Regions from separate parts of the Homo sapiens genome. Here region 1 is linked to region 2. A link means that fine-mapping ties the variant in region 2 to the expression of a gene that starts in the linked region. Tissue or cell type: whole blood. Region 2 holds a variant in brackets; the other region holds the start of a gene. All regions are shown on one strand. Distances are from middle to middle.

Region 1 (2,604 bases), 210 kb after region 2:
GTTTGAGAACAACCTGGCCAACATGGTGAAAACCCCTCTCTCCTAAATGTACAAAAAATTAGCCGGGCGTGGTGGTGGATGCCTGTAATCCCAGCTACTCGGAAGGCTGAGGCAGGAGAATCGCTTGAACCCAGGAGGCGAAGGTTACAGTAAGCCAAGATTGTGCCACTGTACTCCAGCCTGGGTGACAGAGCAAGACTCTGTCTCAAGAAAAAAAAAAAAAAAATGAAGGGGGAAAAAATGTTTCCCTTGGTCCCCAGCAAGTGCCAGACCACTTCGACCAAAGCATAAATAGTGTTTCAAAGAACTGTTAAGCACGTTCTTTGGATAAAGAAGGATGTGACCATCACCTGGCATAGGTACTCTGTCCACCTGCTGCCTTCATTACTTGATGCAGCAGTTTTTGAAGTCTTTAATCAAGACCTTTTTACGCTCTTTTACATTATCAAGGACCCCAAAGAGCTTTCACTTATGTGAATTTTATCTAATGATATTTATTATCTAACATTAAAACTGAGAAATTTTCAAAATATTATTTGAAATCAAGACAACAAAGCTTACTTTTTGTTATGTTTATGCATAGACTCAAGGAAAAGATCAAGATTTCAAGATAATTACTTCAGAAAAATGAGGTTATAGCTATCCTAGTAGATATGAACAAATAGAACTAATCAAAGTACAAAAGCAGTAGCCAAGAGAGTTGGTGGACACCTGTAGTCCCAGCTACTCTGGAGGATGAGACAGGAGGATCTCTTGAGCCCAGGAGTTCCTGGGCAACAAAGTGAGACCCCCTACTCTGAAAAAGAAAAAAGGAAAGAAAAAAAATTAAGTTCACAAGTACTGAGAACAAATTTTATTAATCTCTATAAATCTACATAAATCTCTATAAAATGTACATACTGATAATGTAAACATACTACTATGGAAAATACCAGAAAATACAAGCACGCTCACTCAGGTATTCTATTAGGAGACAGAATGATGACGTTATTACACTTCAAATAGCCCCTGGAAATTTCCACTGTACACTCTTGAGAGAATGAAAGTGAAAATGGCAAATCATTTATTGTTACTATAATGGAAATAGTTTTGCCCTCAGAGACCCCTGGAAAAGATCTTGGAGACATCCCAGACCTGGCGGACCACCATTGGAGAACCAATGTAATCAATTACTTGTAAGGTCATTTCCATTTCTTATCACGAATAAAGGGTATTTTGTCTGATGAATATCTTGTCCTCGTCCCCGGACCACCCTTTTGAGAACAGTTGACCTAAGGTAACCACAGGACTCCTGGCCCAGTGGGACCCAAAGCGAAAAGCCCTGGACGCGCCGAGGGCGCTCTGCTTAAGACTGAGAACCGAAATGCTTCCTGAATTAGGATCATTGAGAACGCCGAGTGCAGACACAAATCGAAAAGCAGCCACCCGCGCCGCCAAGGCGGGGCCAGAACTGGCGGCAGGCGGCTGGCCCGCCCGGGGATGGGGCAGAAGCTGGGGCGGCTGAGAGCGCAGCGCGGGCTCCCGGGAGACGCCGGCCCACTGCCCGCCCGCTCGCCGCAGGTAGGCCCGGCCCCCGGGAGGTGGGGCGCGGCCAGGTGTCCCCAGGTAGCCGCCTCCTCCCGTCCTCCGTCGGCCGCCTCCCCGGACCGAGGCAGGACCTCACCCCGCGCGTGTTCCCCGGGCGCCCCTCTGCGAACCCCAGGCCCTTCCCAGGTTTGCGCGCGGGGGCCATCCAGACCCTGCGGAGAGCGAGGCCCGGAGCGTCGCCGAGGTTTGAGGGCGCCGGAGACCGAGGGCCTGGCGGCCGAAGGAACCGCCCCAAGAAGAGCCTCTGGCCCGGGGGCTGCTGGAACATGTGCGGGGGGACACAGGTACGAGGCCTGGCGGCAGGACCTCGGCGGGGAGGGGGTTACCTGGAAGGGGCCACCTCGGCGGACTGGGTTGGATTCGAACACATAGCGAGGGTTGCCCGCGGCGACAGGTGCCCGATCAGCCCTCGGCAGGGTCACTGGGCACGGCGTTTGTCCCAGGCGCTCTCAGGGGCTGCTTCCTGGGCGCGCGTCGGGTTCCGGCGACCGAAACCGCGCGCCGGGCGCTCTTGCGCCTAGGCTTTGAGTACAACAGGTTGGTGATTCAGTTCGACAGAAACTCAAAGTGCTGAGCTAGGGGCCTTTTTTTTTTAATATTTTTTTTTGTTTGTTTTAGTTTGTTTGACAGTTGCCAGACTATGTTTACGCTTCTGGTTCTACTCAGCCAACTGCCCACAGTTACCCTGGGGTTTCCTCATTGCGCAAGAGGTCCAAAGGCTTCTAAGCATGCGGGAGAAGAAGGTAAGCACTAAAACGTCCCTGGAACCCAGAGCCGCATAGCACAGATCTCAGTGAGAAAGTGCAGTATTTGAAATTACATACCCCCAGCAATCATAGAAACACTAAAATATCCTTTAGTTTAATTTGTGGCATATTTGGCAAGGTTGTGTTTTTTTATGTTCTTTAACTGCAATTTATAGAATTTGATGTCTGTGAGTCTCCTTTAATAAGTATATACGTAAGACCTAGTTTGTGGTTAATTGAATGGAAAACCTATTTCAGCTTCTGAAAATCA
Region 2 (2,760 bases):
AGGATCTAGAACCAGAAATACCATTTGACTCAGCAATTCCATTACTGGGTATATACACAAAGGAATATGTTATTCTGTTATAAAGATACATGCACACATACGTTTATTGCAGCACTATTCGCAATAGCAAAGACACGGAACCAGTCCAAATGTCCATCAATGATAGACCGGATAAAGAAAATGTGGTGGATATACACCATGTAATACAATGCAGCCATAAAAAGGAATGAGATCATGTCCTTTATAAGGACATAGATGAAACTAGAAGCCATCATCCTCAGCAAACTAACACAGGAACAGAAAACCAAATACCGCATGTTCTTATTCATAAGTGCGAGTTGAACAATGAGAACACATGGACACAGGAAGGGGAACAACACACACTGGGGCCTGTCCGGGTGGGGGGCAGCAAGGGGAGGGAGAGCATCAGGACAAATAGCTAATGCATGCGGGGCTTAAAACCTAGGTGTTGATAGGTGCAGCAAACCACCATGGCACACGTATAACTATGTAACAAACCTGCACATTCTCCACATGTATCATGGAACTTAAATAAAATTGAAAAAAAAAAAAAAGAAAGAATGAACCTCTAGGACACAGCTCACTTGGGCGGGGTGGGGGGGAATGGTGTAAAGATTAAATTATATATATAATACACACAGTGCATAGGTGCTCAATTAATGGTATAACTATTATAATAGTTATTATTCTTACCACCATAAAAAAAGTGGCCTGAGAGGTAAAGAAAAAAAATCAGATGAACGAAATATAATAGAAGAAAAGGAAAAGATAACTCAAGCAAGAAATAGTATCAAATGCTTCAAAGGGACTGAAAAGTGTAATATCCAAAGGGAATGGATGTAATGTCCATTTTATTTTATTTTATTTTATTTTTTAATTTATTTTTATTTTTTGAGATGGAGTTTCGCTCTTTCACCCAGGCTGGAGTGCAGTGGTGTGATCTCAGCTCATTGTAACCTCTGCCTTCCGGTTTCAAGTGATTCTCCTGCCTCAGCCTCCTGAGTAGCTGGGATTACAGGCATGCCCCCACATGTGGCTGATTTTTGTATTTTTAGTAGAGACAGGGTTTCACCATGTTGGCCAGGCTGCTCTTGAACTCCTGACCTTGTGATCCACCTGCCTCGAGCTTTCAAAGTGCTGAGATTACAGGCGTGAGCCACTATGCCTGGCCATAATATCCATTTTATGGAGCAGAGGGGCAAAGCCAGACTGCCCTATGTTTTTGTTTGTTTATTTGTTTTGTGACAGGGTCTCCCTCAGTCCTCCAGACTGGAGTGCATTGGTGTGATCATGGCTCATGGTAGTCTCAGCTTCCCAGGTTCAAGTGCTCCTCTTACCTCCCTAGTAGCTGGGACCACCAGTGTGCACCGCCATGCCCCGCTAATTTTTAAAAAAATTTTGTAGAGACAAGGGTCTCACTATGTTCTCCAGACAGGTCTTGAACTCCTGCACTCAAGCAATTCACCTGCCTTGGCCCCCAAAAGTGCTGGAATTACATGCATGAGCCACCATGCCCAGCCCAGATTGCCCTATGTTGAAGGATGAATGGGAAGTAAGAAAGCAAAAAGTATGAGTTTAAACCAATCTTTCAAGAAACTTGGCTCTACAAAGAAGACTTTACTTAGGG[T/C]ATTTGGAAATGGGTGTGAGATCAAAAAGTTTTTTTGTTATTTGTTTACTTTTTAAAATGGGAGGGGCTTAAGCATGTTTAATTGCAAATGGGAATATATAAACTAAAACAAAAGGAATATAACTGATAAACATATAAAATATGTTTAATAAAACAAAAATGCAAAGTACAGCTGACAAAGTATTAAGAAGGCTAGAGAAGACAGGTACTCATACATGGCTGGTAGGACTATAAACTGGTACAACATTTCCGGAAAGCAATCTGACAATATGTGTCAAAAATTATAAGTGAGAGGGCCGGGCGCAGTGGCTCAAGTCTGTAATCCCAGCATTTTGGGAGGCTGTGGGCAGATCACAAGGTCAGGAGATCGAGACCATCCTGTCTAATAAGGTGAAACCCCATATCTACTAAAATACAAAAAAAAAAAAAATTAACCAGGTGTGGTGGCACATGCCTGTAGTCCCAGCTACCCGGGAGGCTGAGGCAGGAGAATTGCTTGAACCCAGGAGGCGGAGGTTGCAGTAAGCCGAGATGATGCTGTTACACTCCAGCCTGAGAGCAAGACTCCATCTCCAAATAAAAAATAAAAAAATAAATAAATAAATAAATTATAAGTGAGAAAGCTCTTTGACCCAGCAATACCATTTCTTGAAGTTTATCCTAAAGAAATAGTCACAAACATACACAAAGATATTTGTACAAGGATGCCCAATAGGGAAGTGGACAGATTAATTATGGCACGTCCTAGTCACACAATGGAAATTGTGATGTAGATCTATTTTTACGGACTTAGAAAGATATCCACTATTTAGTAAAATTTTTTAGCAGTTCCTCAAAAAGTTAAATATAGAATTACCATTCCTCAAGGATCTAGAACTAGAAATACCATTTGACCCAGCAATTCCATTACTAGGTATATACCCAAAGGATTATAAATCATGCTACTATAAAGATACGTGCACACGTATGTTTGTTGTGGCACTATTCACAATAGCAAAGACTTGGAACAAACCCAGATGTCCATCAATGACAGATGACAGACTGGATTAAGAAAATGTGGCACATATATACCATGGAATACTATGCAGCCATTAAAAAGGAGGAGTTCTTGT

What was found. PIP is the estimated chance that this variant, and not a neighbour inherited with it, causes the effect.
Region 1: it holds the start of PRRG4, and the variant in region 2 is fine-mapped to the expression of PRRG4 in whole blood (INTERVAL, PIP above 0.99).

Annotation. Positions count from the first base shown.
Region 1 is chr11:32,828,303-32,830,906 of GRCh38, forward strand. It overlaps PRRG4 (proline rich and Gla domain 4), which reads left to right and starts at 1,625. Exons shown (of 6, transcript NM_024081.6): 1 at 1,625-1,871; 2 at 2,206-2,330. The coding sequence starts at 2,228. It also overlaps a transcript of CCDC73 not described here. RefSeq lists a silencer at 1,402-1,781 and enhancers at 2,202-2,251, 2,262-2,321.
Region 2 is chr11:32,622,113-32,624,872 of GRCh38, forward strand. All of the region lies in intron 14 of CCDC73 (coiled-coil domain containing 73), which reads right to left. Among named protein-coding and RNA genes, the nearest start is that of EIF3M, 40 kb to the left of the region's middle. The variant T/C (reference allele first, on the strand shown) is at 1,649.